Regions from separate parts of the Homo sapiens genome. Here region 1 is linked to region 2. The links come from fine-mapping of genetic effects on gene expression. A gene starts in region 2. The other region holds a variant in brackets. All regions are shown on one strand. Distances are from middle to middle.

Region 1 (4,394 bases), 240 kb before region 2:
AAAAAATTAGATTTATCATTTTAATATATCTTTTTAAAGTATTTGTAATTAATACAACCAACATTTAAGGGAAAGTTACTTTTTACTTGTAACTAATTAGAATCCATTTTAAGAAACAATTACTGAGTCTCAAGTTGCTAACATTAATTTACAGATACAATTCAGATGTCAGCATATTTAAGCAATTTTTCATCGTCAAAGTAAGCATCCAAGCCATATGCACACTGAGATACTACATATTGTACTTACTTTTAAATAAAAAGTACTTCATATAGCATGTCAGAAATAAAACCAGAGAAATCTAGAGAGATCTGTCTCACAGAGAGAGAAAGACATGCATGAAATATTTAAGAGAATGTTACAACCCTATTTAGGAAAAAGACATGTTTTATGAAACATTAAAGAGTCATATTTAGCCAGTCATAGCATTCCATGAACATAGTTAAGCTGTCTTTAAAATCCCAGGCTAGAGCTGTTAGCAAGTTATATATAGCCAAAACTAAATTAGGAGTGTTAACTTCACTATGTCTGGTGAACTAAAAAGCAAATCATGGATAACCTGATATCTAAATTTGAGTATGTGGAAGAAGATAAGAAAACGATATATCTATGCCTATCTCTCATCCTAAAAGTTGGCTGTCTTTCATCTATTTAATTTGCTCCCCAAAAGTATACAAAGAATCCTGGTAATGACCATTTGAACTACTAAACAGAAAGATCAGAAAATTCTTCATTCAGCTGATTAAGTACTGGCAATTCCAAAGAGTCTGACCACAAGTCCTTTGGAGGGAGGGAGGGAGGGAAGGAAGGTGAGCCATTTCCTTAAAACCTTTTTTTGATTAAAAATAAAATTCTGGCTCATACCTGTAATCCCAGCACTTTGGGAGGCCAAGGCAGGCAGATCCTCTGAGGTCAGGAGTTCGAGACCAGCCTGGCCAACACTGGAAAACTCTGTCTCTGCTAAAAATACAAAAATTAGCTGGTCATGGTGGTGTGTGCCTGTAGTCCTAGCTACTCAGTGGGGCTAAGTCAGGAGAATCGCTTGAACCCGGGAGGCAGAGGTTGCAGCTAGCCGAAATCACGCCACTGCACGTCAGCCTGGGCATCACCACAAGACTCCATCTCAAAAAAAAAGAAATTAAATTAAAAAATAAAATTCATAATGGCTCTTTCACCAACTAAACCCTGAAAGAATCAAAAATTAGAAGAGTATAGGCTGGGCACAGTAACTCATGCCTATAACCCCAGCACACTGGGAGGCTGAAGCAGATGGATGGTTTGAGCCTAGGCATTTGAGACCAGCCTGGGCATCATAGCAAGATCCTGTCTCTACAAAAAATAAAAAAATAGCCACAAGTGGTAGCAAGTTTCCGTAGTCCTAGCTACTCCAGAGGCTGAGCTAGGAGTGGAAGGATGGTTTAAGCCCTGGAGTTGGAGGCTGCAGTGAGCTAAGATCGCATCACTGTACTCCAATCTAGGTGACCTGAAGGAAAATCAGGTTACAATACTTTGCAAGTAAAATCTGCAAGGAAAAAAAGTACTATTTCTTAGCTCCCTCCTCCCACTGTGTCAATCAGTGTTTCAAAGAATGACCTGGCTTAGTGTATTTCATCACTTAATTAGAAACAGAACAGTAATTTGCATTTAGTTGCCTGTCTTACATTAAGAAAGAAACTCAATGGTGTTCCAATCAATAACAGAAAGTATCGATAAATTACATTGTTGAGTATCTGAAAAGAGAAGGCCACTTAGTACAAAGGTAAATTATTTTAGAATAGGAATATCAATAGTCAGAAAAACACATTAAACAACATATTCTTCAATTACCACCCAGTGAAGAAATTGCTTTTACTGTGTCTGGGTGATTTGTATCTAGAACCTCTCTGAATACTTTCAATGACAGCAAATTCACTGTCAGAGTCCACTTCATTCAGAAGTAATTAAAATTTTTTAAATTTTTTCTTATATTGTTCTAAAATCAGATTCCCACAACTTTGACACGATGCTCCAAATTGTTGCTTTCAGCCCTTAAAGTCACTGAAGTTACCCATCTTGCCCCCATATCCTTTCTTTTTCTAAACTATGGATCATGATAAACTGTAATTATTTTAATAAATTCAATAAAAAGTATTTTGACTAGGCTAGGCATGATGGGGGAAGGAGGAAAGCCTCAAATATTACAAGACACAAAAACCTGAATTTCAAAACAAATTCAACATACTATATATGTTCAATTCTATGATGCGTTTTTTCCCCTAACATGTTAACTTCTCTGAAATTGGCAGATGGCTTACAATTAAAGACATTTATAGTTGCTACTGAAGAGGTGGTGACAATGACAGTTCTCTCTGCCTGTATAAGAACTTAGTTGTTTTTTCCAGTGATATAACTGGACAATTGCAACCTCTCAACATTCCAGGCAACAATCCATTTAACGAACAGTTGAAGAAAGAAT[A/G]TGAGCTAGCAACTGTCTGAAAACCTTTCATTAACATCATCCGGTAACATGAAGAAAGTGCCAGCATTAACACTTACAGAAACCAGTATCAATGGTTAAGAAGAAAATCCCAGATCAAAGTACAGTGGATGAAGTATGCTATATCATCAACTTTCCTAACTGCACAGAAAAGATACTCTGTGGAAAAACAGACAACTCTGGGTAAGAAAAAAATGATTGAGAAGAATTGGGCTCTGGAGCAAGACAGCCGAATAGGAACAGCTCCGGTCTGCAGCCCCCAGCGAGATCAATGACGGTTGATTTCTGCATTTCCAACTGAGGTACCTGGCTCATCTCACTGGGACTGGTTGACAGAGGGAGGGCGAGCAGAAGCAGGGTGGGGCATCACCTCACCCAGAAAGCACAAGGGGTCGGAGAACTCCCTTCCCTAGCCAAGGGAAGCCATGAGGGACTGTGCCATGAGGAATGGTGCATTCCAGCCTGGATACTACGCTTTTCCCATGGTCTTCGCAACCTGCAGACCAGCAGATTCCCTTGGTTGCCTACACCACCAGGGCCCTGGGTTTCAAGCACAAAACTGGGTGGCTGTTTGGGCAGACACCGAGCTAGCTGCAGGAGTTTTTTTTCATACCCCAGTGGCGCCTGGAACGCCAGCAAGACCGTACTGTTCATTCCCCTGGAAAGGGGGCTGAAGCCAGGGAACCAAGTGGTCTAGCTCAGCAGATCCCACCCCCACGGGGTCCAGCAAGCTAAGATCCACTGGCTTGTAATTCTTGCTGCCAGCACAGCAGTATGAAGTGGACCTGGGATGCTCAAGCTTGGTGGGCGGGTGGGGAGGGAGAGTAGCTGCCATTACTGAGGCTTGAGGAGGCAGCTTTCCCCTTACAGTGTAAACAAAGCGCCAGGAACTTCAAACTAGGCGGAGTCCACTGCAGCTCCGCAGAGCCGCTGTAGCCATACTGCCTCTCTAGATTCCTCCTCTCTGGGCAGGGCATCTCTGAAAGAAAGGCATCAGCCCCAGTCAGGAGCTTACAGGTAAAACTCCCAACTCCCTGGGATAGAGTACCTGGGGGAAGGGGCGGCTGTGAGCGCAGCTTCAGCAGAAGTAAACATTCCTGCCTGCTGGCTCTAAAGAGAGCAGCGGATCTCCCAGCACAGCCCTCACACTCTGCTAAGGGACAGACTGCCTCCTCAAGTGGGTCCCTGACCCTTTTACCTCTTGACTAGGTGACACCTCCCAGCCGGGGTCGACAGACACCTCATACAGGAGAGCTCCGGCTGGCATCTGGCAGGTGCCCTTCTGGGACAAAGCTTCCAGAGGAAGGAACAGGCAGCAATCTTTGCTGTTCTGCAGCCTCTGCTGGTGATACCCAGGCAAACCGGGTGTGCAGTGGACCTCCAAGAAACTCCAGCTGACCTGCAGCAGTGGGGCCTGACTGTTAGAAGGAAAATTAACAAACAGAAAGGAACAGCATCAACATCAACAAAAAGGACGTCCACATCACGAAGATGAGGAAAAACCAATGCAAAAAGGCTGAAAATTCCGAAAACCAGAATGCCTCTTCTCCTCCCAAGGATCACAACTCCTCGTCAGCAAGGGAACAAAATGGGACAGAGAATGAGTTTGACAAATTGACAGAAGTAGGCTTCAGAAGGTGGGTAATAACAAACTCCTCCAAGCTAAAGAAGCATGCTCTAACCCAATGCAAGGAAGCTAAGAAACTTGAAAAAAGGTTAGAGGAATTGCTAACTAGAATAACCAGTTTAGAGAAAAACAGAAATGACCTGATGGAGCTGAAAAACACAGCACGAGAACTTCGTGAAGCATATACAAGTATCAATAGCCGAATCGATCAAGCGGAAGAAAGGATATCAGAGATTGAAGATCAACTTAATGAAATAAAGAGTGATGACAAGATGAGAGAAAAAAAGAATGAAA
Region 2 (4,394 bases):
ATACATATACACACACACACACACACATATATATATGTGGCCTTTACATTCCATGTGACATAAGATCACAAGGATGAAAAGCAAAAGGAACACAACAGGCACATTACTGTCCACGGATATTAGCATGAGGTACACAAAGTGAAAAATTAGTTAGTTGGGGTTTATTGTAGATGAGTATGTAAGTGGTCACTTAAGAAAAACTCTATTATTTGATGACTAACAAATTTTGTGGAACTCATAAATGAACAACTTTTCTGAGTGACATTCGCAAGTTAGAAAAAGCCAAATCTGAGGAAAGTGCACCTCCCCTGCTCCAATCCCATCCCAATTTAAGAGTCATAAGGTAAGCACCACCTTTTGCTGGCCTAGCTTCATCTGGTAGCAATAAAGACGTGGGAGTCTAGTATTCCCCACATTCCACTCATTCCCTCATAAACACCCCAGAGTTGCTCTTAGGACTTAAAAGTTCCAAACACAGATGTACCTGCTTTTTGAGAGAAGGGCAAGGGAGAAGGGAGCGTAGATGTTTTTCCCAGGAGTCCACCTTGTACGTCATTCCTAATATGAACACCCTATGTTTATTATAAAAAGAACTCTCATATACTTTATCTTATTTGTTCTAGTCTCACAAATTGGCGAGGCCTCAATCAAGTTGTAGTCCAGGTGCTTTCTTTGGAGGGAAAGGGCTATGAGCGCACATCTTCTAAGTACACGACATCAGCAGTGTAGTACGTGCACCATGCCTTACAAGTGAGACACAAAAAATTTATTGGTAGTAAACTTCCTATAATAGACATTACCAGCCTAAGACTTCCTGAGAAAGACACCCTGTCAATCATCTGATCAGACCTGTACTTGCACAGAGCTCTGCTCAAGCTATGAGTTCAATAACTGTTTGTTGCATTATACTTGACTCCAACTTTGTTCCACTCCTGAATAAAAATTTACTGAGGCCTGAACTTGAGAATGCGTGTCCTGAAAGTAGAAACCCTCAGTCTCTGGCTCACCTGGGCAGGGAGAAAGGTTTCTCAAACGAGCCAAGACAAATCAGAAATCTTAATTTGATCTTCCTAAAACATAAGTCAGATCACTCCACTGATTAAAACAAGAGCTTCACATTCCCCTAGAGCAGTGCTGACCAAAAATCATGAGAGCCACATATGTAATTTCAAATTTTCTAGTAGCCACATAAGAAAAAAAGTAAAAACGAGAGAAATTTTAATTGAAAAATTTAAATTTATATTTAATATATTTCATGTGACCCAATATATCAAAAATAATCACTGCAACATGTAATCAATATAAAAGCTCTTAATGAGCTATTTTACATCCTTTTTTCATACTAAGTCACTATACTCGTGTGTATTTTACAACACATCTCAATTGGACTAGTCACCTTTCAAGTGTTCAACAGCCACATGTGTGGCCGGCAGTTACCATACTGGCTGGACAGTGCAGATACAGAAGAAAACCCCAAGTCCCTATCCTGCAAGGCCCTGATGATTTGGGTCCTCCTAACCTTCTCTCCCACTCTCTCCCTCTCCGGAGCTTCACTGGAGGCCTCTATAAGGTCCTTTCAGCCTCAAGGACGTTGCCGAAATGAATGCATGAATGAATGAAAGCATGTTACAAATATCCGAGGCCAGGCCTTGCGTGATTACAGTAGAGGCCGAAAGAGGCAGGGCTGCTGGTCAAGGTCAGACGGCTAGGTGGGGTGAGCTCGGGGCCTAGCCGGAACTAGCGGAGAGGAAAACAAGCCTCCGCGTCGCCCGCCCCGCCGCCCCGCCGCCCCGCGGGCTCACCTCCTCCTTCAGGTAGTCAAATTTGGTCGGCTCGGGCTGCCGGGCTGCCCAGTTCTTCTGTTTCCTTTTCAAATCCCGGTCGAAAATATTCAGGGTTCTGGGCGAGGTGCTACCGCGGGGAGAGACACCAGAGGTGACTTCCCTACGGCCAAGATTCTCCGCTGGGACCCTCGCCGCCCAAGGTCGCCGACATAAGCGCCAGAGCCCTGCCGGCCGCAGCATCTCCAGCTGCGACCCCAATTGCCGGCGCTTTTTGTGCGCATGCGCCAGCGCGGCTTTTGTGTCTACTCCAAAGATCTTCTCGAGGGAACGTGCAAGTAGTTTGGCCTAGTTCGCTTGCCATTACGGCGGAGCGTCACGCGGAGGATTGTGGGTGTGAGCCCCACGTGAGGCTTGGTAGGACTGCGGACGGTGAGTGGGGATGGACTGGAGTTGAAGAGCTCGAGATGAAGGGCTTGAGGGCGTGTGTGTGTGTGGCGCGGGGAAAAAACTAGTCTCTAACAGGATCTCTTTCGGATCTGCGAGGGGTTTTGCCCCTTCCTCCTGAGCCTTTTTCGGTCTCATTCTTCAGTCTTCATCGATCCTTTTCAGGGTCGCTTCTCGAATCAGTCTGTTAGCTGCCCCCCTGCGGTACAGGAGGTGGAAAGGAGACCCTAGTTCAGGGGCCAGCCCTGTGTTCTCCGAATTAGAGAGCGGGCAGAAGGGGAGGGTGGGCTACGGGGATGCGGGCGCGTGTCGGGAGTGAGGTCCGGTCGCCTTCCCCTCTCTCGGATTATCTGACATATAATGAGTGCTTTCCTTCTAAACATTTACAATACATGCAGTACTTCTCCTGGTTGAGGTGGTACCTACCTCGTAAGATTGCTCAGAGAGTTAAGTGCTGTAATACATCGAAAAATGTGTAAATGCACCAGCGATAGCTTCCTTTTTTTTCCTAGTTAGTGTAATTAAAAGGACTTGATTTTTAAATAAGAAATATTGCCCTTTTAATCATTTTGGGGGGGGGTTGCTTAATAATCAACGACTTTTGGCTCTTTGCAAAATTCCCATCCAGAGATGCTAAACCATTGGAGACTTTTCACAAGGGAACAATATTAATTTATACACACATATGTATATGTTCTAGTATGTTTTGGGGGAATGAGCTCACTTGGGCCTTCATCACTGGTAGAATCAGATATTATAGAAAGAAGTGATATTTATTAACTGGTGTGAGACTTTACCTGGAGACTCAAATTTACTTTTTATTTTTAAACTTTTTATTACTTTTGAAGGATGATCGAATTTAAAAAGGAAACTTTCTTAGCTAAACCTGAGTTGATTTTGGTCTGTTTAGTTAGAATGCTAGTCTTACAGAACTAAAGGCTGTTTGTTGGCAGTAGCCGGAGATAAGGAGTAAGCAGAATGAGACCAGAATGTGAAGAAACAAATGAGGCCAACGGAGGCTAGGGAATCTTTCTTTCTTACTTTTTTTTGGTAGACAGGGTCTCACTCTGTTGCCCCAGCTGGTGTGCTGTAGTGCCGTTAGGCTCACTCTAGCCAAGACCTCCCGGGTGGAAGTGATCCTCTTGCCTTAGCCTCCAAAGTAGCTGGGACTACAGGCGCGCGCCACCATGCCGGGCTCATTTTTGTATTTCTTGTGGGGATTCACCATGTTACCCAGGCTGGTCCTGAACTCCTGGGCTCAAGTGATCCGCCCGCCTTGGCCTCCGAAAGTGCTGGTGAGCCACCGCACTCGGCCTAGGGAATCTTAACTACATTTGCCTTCAATTAGTAACACATACTGGTATACAAATAGAAATTCTAAGTGAGAGCAATGGATGAATAAACATTTGTTCCCCTCCATAAAGCCCTGGGATTCTGCTTTGTCTACCTTAAGTTTATTTCTCTAAATGATCTGTCATGGAAAGAGGATATTTTGGTATGTTTCTGCTTTTTTGCATGTGACCCAGAATACGTTGGAGAGATGAAATTAGACTTGTTACCTCTATTTTATGTACACTTAACTTAGAATATATTAACTTAGAATATATTGTGAATGTGTTTTAAAACATTTAATTATTGTACTAACCATTATTACCATTAAAACATTTGTTTTATTTTTCAGTATTTGTTTTCTTCAAGCATTTGGTCGAGATTAAGAATTAAAAATGTCATCCAAACAAGAAATAATGAGTGACCAGCGGTTTAGACGGGTTGCAAAGGACCCGAGATTTTGGGAAATGCCAGAAAAGGATCGAAAAGTCAAAATTGACAAGAGATTTCGAGCCATGTTTCATGACAAGAAGTTCAAGTTGAACTATGCCGTGGATAAAAGAGGGCGCCCCATTAGCCATAGCACTACAGAGGATTTGAAGCGTTTTTACGACCTTTCAGATTCTGATTCCAATCTCTCTGGTGAAGATAGCAAAGCATTGAGTCAAAAGAAAATAAAGAAGAAAAAAACCCAGACTAAAAAAGAAATCGATTCAAAAAATCTAGTTGAGAAAAAGAAAGAAACCAAGAAGGCTAATCACAAGGGTTCTGAAAATAAAACTGATTTAGATAATTCTATAGGAATTAAAAAAATGAAAACCTCATGTAAATTTAAGA

The links.
Region 1: its variant is fine-mapped to the expression of NDUFAF5 in blood mononuclear cells (TOPMed, PIP 0.97). The same link has a PIP of 0.9 or more in whole blood.

The regions. Positions count from the first base shown.
Region 1 is chr20:14,027,158-14,031,551 of GRCh38, reverse strand. All of the region lies in intron 2 of MACROD2 (mono-ADP ribosylhydrolase 2), which reads right to left. Among named protein-coding and RNA genes, the nearest start is that of MACROD2, 34 kb to the right of the region's middle. The variant A/G (reference allele first, on the strand shown) is at 2,456.
Region 2 is chr20:13,782,699-13,787,092 of GRCh38, reverse strand. It overlaps NDUFAF5 (NADH:ubiquinone oxidoreductase complex assembly factor 5), which reads right to left and starts at 2,065. Exons shown (of 11, transcript NM_024120.5): 1 at 1,803-2,065. The coding sequence starts at 2,024. ESF1 (ESF1 nucleolar pre-rRNA processing protein) reads left to right here and starts at 2,174. Exons shown (of 14, transcript NM_001276380.2): 1 at 2,174-2,213; 2 at 3,910-4,394. The coding sequence starts at 3,953. RefSeq lists enhancers at 1,155-1,844, 1,840-2,129.